Linked DNA regions of Homo sapiens: region 1 is linked to region 2. Evidence: fine-mapped expression QTL. A gene starts in region 2. The other region holds a variant in brackets. All regions are shown on one strand. Distances are between the middles of the regions.

Region 1 (4,391 bases), 49 kb after region 2:
GGGATTACAGGTGTGAGACACTGCACCCTGCCCAAGGTAATATTTTGACCTTCCTTTACCTTATTCTTTGTCCATCTCTTAATTAGTTTATAACTTAGACGGGAAAAAAGAGGTGTCTAAATAAATAAATAAATAAATTTATTTAAATAAATATTAAATAAATCCCATCAGTTCCCCATAGAATGCCATTTTCCCCTAGCTGTCTATTCATGTAACAAAACGAACAAGAAAACACTACAAATTCTCTCCCTATTTATACTGTCCCACCATTATGTTATAACTCTCATTATAATGTTTTAGTTTTTCCTTGAAATAATAATCATCAACCCATTTGTAAACCATATGTTTCTACCCACAAGTGACAACCAGAATTTCAGGATTAATTGCAAGAGCCATAAAGAGCTTTTTGGTCATTTCCCTAAGAGCCTCCATGAATAGTAACAAGGGCGAATAGTAACCCCCGGCTTCAGCTGTCCCCACTGCTGTGGCAGGTTATGATACTTTCTTTCCTAAAGTAAAGGCCAAGACAGATGGCTTTTCAGGACTTCCAGAGTCTGTATGACATAAGAAGCTTATTCCAGTAAAGGGAACAAGACCCTTGTCATCTGACACCAATGAGATGCTCTTCCCTTGGCTGGCAGGGATCTGGAGGAGGAGGAGCAGATAACCTTCAGCCTAAATAAGCAATACCATCATTATTCTGGAATCTCTCTGAAGTATGGTTGGTTACAGTGTGGAATTCCACAGGGCACGTGCCTGTCTTGGACTCTATCCAAGGGAGTAAGTTATCACAAGGACCTCATTATAACAGGGGCTCCAGGGACAGTGTCAGTCAGCAGGCTTCAAGGTAGCTGCTAAAATTCTGGTGCTGGTCTGTTTAATCACTGCATGCTTGTTAATACAGTCAAGCCTCAGTTACAACAGAATCAACAGCCCAGTTTGTCACTCATCCATTCCTTGTTCCGTCACCGCCTGGTTGAGTTTCTGGCTTGTTTATGGGGCAACTCTGGGTGTCGGGCAAAATGAATGCCTCTTGTTTGAAATGCCTAATCCCGAGGTTTTTCACCTATGTGTTGTTTTCTCCCACCAGCACCTCTGCTCCGTGCCATGCTCTTGGCTAATTGGAGTTGTGAAAGGCATGAGGATTCTGGTCATGGACTCAGCTCTCCCATAGGGTTCTGACACCAAAGCAATGGTCACAACAGTGAAAGGAAGAATCCATCTGGCCAGGCTCAGGTGGTTCAAGGCCTTCAGAATCTGCCTTGAGACTCTCACTGGCTTTAGACTGAAAACCATCTTGGCCCCGTCCATCCGTGTAAGCAATTTAACGACAGCTTGCAAAGCACCGAGCTTTAACAGAAAGAAGAGATGAGCACAGCGCAAGAACTTGGACTCCAGAAGAGCTGCCTAACAGATTATTTTTCTGTGGCATTTCATGAGAACAAACGAAGTAGGAATTTTCCTTTTGTTTGTCTGGCCTTTGGCATCGTTTACTTTCTTTTTATTCTTCTGAAATGTACTTCGAGCCCTGGCAGCATTTCTGTCCTAAAATCTTATTGTCAGAGGTTTATTTTTCAGCTTTTCAAATCATATCTGATAGAGTGAGTGTACTGCCTGGACTCATCACTTTACTTCAGAAGAAATACAGCTCACCCTTTAAATGACAATGGTGACTGTCCACATCTTTATGTTTTCTACACTGAAGTGGCAGGCTTCATTTAAAAATAATGTTTTCCCTCATCAAAAGAGAGCTAGGGTAGAACC[G/C]TCAACTCTGCTGTTGTCTGGGTAGTGACCTAACACCCACGTTTTGGACAATCACTCACTGTCTTATATTGGGTTTTCATTGCATGTAGGATAATTCTTTGTCAATGGTAGTTTTGTCAACCGTGATCTGAGGTAATGAGGTTTTCTACTTTTGCTTGAAATTTTGAAAATATGCAAGCTTTAAACATTTGCAAAGTTGGATTCTGTTTTCTTTAGAAAGCAATCTGATTTGCTGATATTCTCTCCATCTGTCAGGGGATGCGTGATGTGGTGTAGACTTAATGTGCTGCCTTTCTGGAACATGGACAGAGTAGCAGCACAGAAAAATGAGCATTTCAGCTCTGTGATGATTTGTGAAAAAAAATCTCAGATCATTGAGCAGGCATTTTGCTGACACCTGTGAAAAGTAACCACATGAGAGAGCATGGCGTGATGGTCGGAGGCCACGTGCTGGAGCTGGACTGCTTGAGTCAAATCCCAGCTGCTCAGCTGTAGTGAACTGAATGGTGGTCCCCAAAAGATACATGTATCTCCTAATCCCTGGAACCTGTGAATGTGACCTTATTAGGCAAAAGGGTCTTTGCAGATGTAATTACATTGAGGCTCTCAGAGATGAGAACATCCTGGATTATCAGGGTGGGTCCTATATCCAATGACAAGTGTCTCCTTATAGGAGACAGAAGAAGTTGCAGACCCGGAAGAGACTAAGTAAAGATGGAGGCAGAGACTGGAGTGAGGCTGCTGCAGGCCAAAAATGCCTGGTGCCAGCAAAAGCTGGAAGAGGCAAGGAAGGACCTTTCCCTGGGGCTTTTGGAGGGAGTGCAGCCCTGCTGATGCCTTAGTGTTGGATATCTGGGCTATGGAACTATGAGAGAGAAACTTCTGTTGTTTTAAGCCACCTAGTTTGTGGTACTCTGTTATGGCAGCCACAGGAAACTAATACACTCTTTACCACCTGAGTGACCTTGGCCAACTTACTTAACCTCCATGAATCAGTCCCCTCAAAGGACCACCCTCCCCCCAGGGTCACTGTGATGATAAAGTGCTTTAGCATAGGTGACTGGTTTAGACCAGGGCCTGGTACCTAGCACATGCTATGCCAGTGTTTCTATCATGGCAGCAGCAGATGCAGTGGAGCTTAGATTTCAACTGTGTCCATGCTGGTTAGAAAAGTCACAGTCTGGGACACAGGACACTTCTGGAAGAATCTCCCTCAGTGGATCCCAGTGTTCCAGCAATGTTTTCCAAGCAGCTGAAGAACAGGAAGCAGGAACAGGGTTCCCTACAAGAGCCATTATTCAGATGCCTCTACATCTGACTGGTTTCGGAGAAGTGTGACTTCTGGAGGTTTATGTGCTGGGACTTTAACAGCATACGTACTAAAAACCACATTTATGTTTCCTCAAATGCTGGGCTCTCTATGAGCCTTGACCTGCCTGAGAAGATTAGAGGCGGCTGCCTAATCTGATCAGTCAACTCAGTGAAACAACTGCATTGATTAAAGCCATAAGATGTTAGGATTCTCTGTTCTTGGTGGCCTAAAAGGTCCCATTCCTTTCCCAAAGTGCTTAGCTTGATCCCATCCCAGGGAACAATTTTGGGTGGAGGAGAACCTGGCCACAGATCATAAGATCATGTATGACTAAGTCTACTTGCCTTCATGGAAACATACATGGAGTTTTGGGCAATTTCTTTGAAGCCCCTCTAGAGGCTTCTAAAGATTGTTTAGTGCCATCTGGTTTTTAATCCTGGATGTCAAACTTGTTGATTTTTGCCCTGGACCATCTGTTTTTCAACTTCCCACGGAACCTTTCCTTTGGGCCAAGTAGGGAAAGAAATACTATATTTTTAATTCTTTTTGTTTTGCCTTCTCATCCCAGTCACAGCATTAGAAAGGGAAAATCGACTGTCTGACAAAGCTCTGAAAGACTGGACATGAAGTGCTGGCCTTGCTATCTGCAGGGCATCTCCCTATAGATTGGATACCTTTTCCTTCACTCTCTGATAAAAAGTGAGACAGACTGAGCATAGTCCTGTGACCATTTAATGCCTGTGCCCAGAACATGGGTCTGTACCACTTGCAGGAGTCACAGTGGGGAGGAGCAGGGACCTTGGGGTCTGCCTGCCTCTGTCTGAATTCCAGCTGAGCCCATTCCTAGGCCAGTGCCTGGGAAAGTTATCTGACCTCTGAGATCCAGTCTACTAGCCTCACAAGTGAGACTGTGACAACACTTACCTCAATGAGGCACTGGACATCATCTCATTTAATCCTCAACATGCCTCAGTGTCCAGCATTTAACAAGCTCCCATAAACATTAGTTACTCTCATTCCTTAATATGAATAGCATTTAAAATAATAAAGTGGGAGAGAGCAATGCTGCATGCCCTACAACTGGCCAGAGAGCTTGCAGCAAGGAGAATGCTTAGGTGGAACATACAGGCCTTTTCTGTGTTCATCCCATTCCAAAGGATTTGGTGTTGCCATATATGGAACATGAAGATTAGAAATGGCCATTTCCAAACTGGTGAATCCCTTGGTGCCTTTTTCTCCATTGTGATTCATCCGGGGTACCCTCAGTTTTCAGTGGTCATGGTCATTCCAAACCAGCCATGAGCTGGGGGAACAT
Region 2 (4,391 bases):
TTCCCTCTTTAAGCCCTAATGTTCATTGACGCGTTAACAATGAGTCACGATTTTATTTCTTGACAGTAGATGGCGCTGGTGATTGTCAAAAGAGACAGAGTCTCCCACACCCCTCTCCTTTCCTGAGCCATTGAAAAACAAAACAAAGAGCTGGTGGAAAAAAAACGCAAAAATTTTCATCGTAATGAAGGATTGAAATTAAAAATTTGGAACCGTCATGTGATTAAGCAGAACGTGTATATGATCCACACACTTTTATTTGGAACTCTAGGGAAAACCTCCTGAGCTATTTGTAAAATTTCATTCTCAGGATTAAAACAAAATATAGTAAAATTTGATTATCCAGACAAAAGATGGATTTATATTTCTCTATTAGACAGATTTTATTTCTGCACCTTAATTTTAGCAAGGGATGAATATTAAGACAACTATGAATTTAGTTGACAAAAAACTCACATATATCTGACTTCCAGAGTCCTGAAGGTGGTATAGAGGAGTATGGTAGTCAAGATAAAAACAAAACAAATTATTATATGACCTTTGAGTATATCACTTAATGTCTCAGGACAGAAGTTTTCTCATTTGTAAAACTGAAATATTTCTTGCCTAATTCACATGGCAGTTGCAAGGATCAAATACAGTAAAGTAGTATAAACACCTTGAGAATTGTCATGTTCTTTCCAAATATGCTTTTTTTCATCTTTACCATACAATCAACCCAACCACCTATAGGTAAAATCATAACACAAGGAAAATTGGAATTCAGAATAAAATACTTGAGCATTAAATTTCCTCATTGGTCCAAAAGCACTTTAATAGGCTTTGGTGAATTAGATTCGTGCAAGAAAAGGGACTAATGTATTTTCAACCATCAAAGGAGTGTTTAGCTTAATAATCAGCTACCCAGAAAATGAAACAGAAAAACACTTGAATCCAAAGCACCGAAGTGAACTGAAGCGGCCTCCACTGTCCTCCCCTAACTGTCCGCACGGCCTGTCCTCTGTAGGAGTGTCCTTGTGTACGTGTGGAGGTTGTGGACACACATGCCTAGGGTTACAGATGCTCTACAGACTTAACTCAGTATAGTGAAGCTGCAGAGATAGTCATAGCCCTAAAGAAGCCTATCTGAGAGCTTTCCTTTGGGTTTTACAAGAGGCATAGATATTTATTCTGCTCTTCTTTTAACAAAAGACTCCCAAATATTTGCTGAAGATGTAGAGTATTGCCATTTCTGCTTCAAAAGCTCTGAGCCTCTCACGGCACCTGTTGCTGCTGCCCCAAGAGCGGAACACACCCTCCACACCAGCAGCCCCAGGACTAGATTCAGCTTCTCAGTGAACCACTTCCATGCTCCACGATGTGCTCTGGGCTTTGGGGACTTAAAACATCGCAGCCGCGGCATAACAGAGATGCGTCAGCTTCTAAAGTCGTAGTGGGCAGTTCTAGAAACCTGACCCTTTCTTCTGCTGCTACAGATTCTATTGGCTTCTGGAGATTCAGAGACGTCCTTCCTCAAGAAGGAACCTCTGCCTGGCCTTCAGCAGGGCCACTGTCATGTGCGATATTCACTTAGAGCCTTATCACATTTGTGGCTGTAGAGGTGTTTGCGTGCCTTGTTTAATTTATCCCACTAGACTGTAAGTTCAGGGCAGATGGGGGATGTCTGGTTTTTGTTTTTTTTTTTTTTGCCTAATACTGTGTCCCCATGCTGGGCACAGACCTAGCACAGAGTAGGTGCTTGGCAAAGAGCTTTTGAATGAATGAATGATTGGCTGTAGTCTTCCTGGGAAAGGGCTGGCAGGCAAGGAAGTGTTAAACCAGCCACTAACCGCCCAGGCTGACCAGCCTTCTCCCTATCTCCCAGGCCTTTCGAACGGAGCCCGGGGAGGACAGGCTGGCAGAGGAGGGAGGAGGGTTTCTAGCTGAGAGAGACTGCGGCTGTGGGCCTGCAGCCTACCCCTCTTCAAGCTCTCCGGAGCCGTTCCTGCGAAACCAGCCCCCACAAGTGAGTGTCTGCGGCCCCCTCCCTCCTCTTTCCCTTATTGCTCCCTGTGGGGATGGGGCTGACACCGAGCTTGATCCTAAGTAAAAGTCTGTTCTAACAGGAAGCAAATAATGTTCCTCCCCTGACGGAGGTGTTTCCTTCTCAAAGAAGTTACAAAGGGCTCTTTTCAGAGAGAAAGGGGCTGGGAATAGTGTGTGGCCTCACTGCCGTCTGCCTTGGGTGGAGCCAGCACGTTCTGGAATCCAGGGGCTTCCTCTTCTAAAGAGGCGCCGGGCCATGCACTGAAACGGGGTGGCCCATCCTCTGGGAGCCCCAGTCCCCTTACCTGCTTGATACAAGCATCCTCTGGAAGTGCCTAGGGTCATTGCCAAGGCCCCTGTTTTCTTTTCTTGGCTTCCAGGACGCCGTAGTCTGTGTTCTTCCTCCCGCCCTGCAGTTCCCTAGCTGGATTCTCTTCCTCGCTGTGATCTCTTCATCCCTGGTTCCCCAGCGCTCTGTCCTGAGCCCCCTTCTCGAACCACACTCTCGTCTGAGTGAGCATATTGAGCTTCATGGCTGTACATTTCCTCCCCGTGCCGAGGAATCCCACACACTTAGTTCCAGCGCCCAGCTCGCCCCCACCTCATCCAGGTCCTTACATCCCCCTGCAGACTCTGTCTCCACTCCACCTCATTGGTGTTTCCCACTCACTAGATCTAAAGCCAAACTCTTGATCCTGACTTCTCCACCCACCAGCTTGCCTTTCTCTTCATCTTCCCCATCTCAGAGAGCGGCTCGGTCCCGAACTGTCTCTTTCCTTCACACCCTTCATCTAACACACAGCAAGGCTTCTCAGCTCTACCTTCAAAATCTACTCCTCATCTTTCTTCTTCCCACCACCGCCACTCAAACGCCCTCGGCCTAGAGGGATCAGACCCATACTACCTGGCTCCTGAACCTCTGCAAGAGTCTCTGATCTTTCTGCTTCCACTCCTGTCTTGCTACAGACTATTCTTCTGACAGCAGCCGGGGTGATCTTTTCAACTACCAGACCGTGTCACCTTGCTTAAAACCAGCTGGGGCTTCCCTCACACGCAGCATGACACTCAAACTCCACACGACAATCTAACCAGCCTCACCAACTGTGGCCCTGGCTTGTCCTTCTGACTTAGCTTCTGTCTCAGCTCAGGCTACACTGGCCTTCTTGGTATTCCTCAGCCCCCCAGCTTGTCACTGCCCAGCCTTTGCACTGTGTCCTCTCTCTGGAGTTCTTTCCCTCAGGTCTTCAGGTGGCCTTGCTCTCGGGCTTTCTGGAGAGACTTAAAAGCCATATCCATGGAGAGGCTGAGTTTGGCCACCTACCTAAGGTAGCCTCTCATCACTCTCCATGCCTTCGTCTGGCTTTCCTTTTGATTGAGCACTTGTTACTACTTGTGTTCAGCTCTTAGATGAGGGCACAAGGAACTCTGGCGGGTTTAAGTAGAAGAAGGATTTATGTGTAGACTTTGACAGCTCCAGGAATGTTTGGGAAGGCTTAGTGGTTTATAGCCAAGAAGAGTGCACGCATTGCACGAATTGGTGGGATCTCTGCTGCCCCAGCTGCCACTGGTTATGTCACCAATGCTACCGTCCCAGATACTAACACTGCTGGAACCCGCTGTCACCAGCACCCTTGGAATCCCCATCTTTCTGCAGCTGCTGCCATCTCCTATGAGGGCTTTCTCAGTCTCTTTGTCCTTGAGTCATTGGTTCCTAACTCAAATTGTGGGCCAGTGTGTCTGGCTGGTGGAGCCTTGGCCACAGGCCTTGGCTCCTTCTACAAGAGAGGCTGATAAAACCACTATCAGGCATTTTCAAATTCTATGTAATGGACCATGGGCTCTGCTTATCCACCAGATTCCATGAGGTAGGGAATCTCAAACATAGGATGGAGGTTCAGATTCTGGGTAACCAAAAAACAACGATAAGCATGCCCTTGACTAGCTGGCTTTCTAGTATATATTTACGTGTTTATGTGTCTATTGCCTAGCTACTACATTAGAATGAAAGCTAGATGAGGTCAGGCACTTTGTCTTTTTCCCTCTGTATTCCGAGAGTTCAGAACAGTGGCTGCACAGAAGTGACCCTTGATAACTACTGAATGAATATCAGATACTGTATTGAAGGTGTCAGCAATTAGAAAGATTAAACAGTCTCATTGTTGCTACCATTCCTTCTTTAGGTGGCTGATGCTCCTGTCCCTCTTCTGGCCTGATTGCTCCCTCTCCTGACCCCTAAGGTAAAAGCCAGCCAACTTGGGAGATATAGTTTGCCGGTAAAAGAGACAAGCAGACAGGGTCAGGTGCTCCATGCCAGGAAAGGAAGCCAGTTAGTGACAAAGGAGAATCCCAGGGGACTTCAGGGAGGG

The links.
Region 1: its variant is fine-mapped to the expression of PIRAT1 in whole blood (TOPMed, PIP above 0.99).

Annotation. Positions count from the first base shown.
Region 1 is chr2:37,824,578-37,828,968 of GRCh38, reverse strand. PIRAT1 (PU.1 (SPI1) induced regulator of S100A8 and S100A9 alarmin transcription 1) reads left to right here. Exons shown (of 4, transcript NR_110012.1): 3 at 1-36; 4 at 1,091-2,722. Among named protein-coding and RNA genes, the nearest start is that of PIRAT1, 49 kb to the left of the region's middle. The variant G/C (reference allele first, on the strand shown) is at 1,765.
Region 2 is chr2:37,873,357-37,877,747 of GRCh38, reverse strand. PIRAT1 (PU.1 (SPI1) induced regulator of S100A8 and S100A9 alarmin transcription 1) reads left to right here and starts at 1,885. Exons shown (of 4, transcript NR_110012.1): 1 at 1,885-2,005.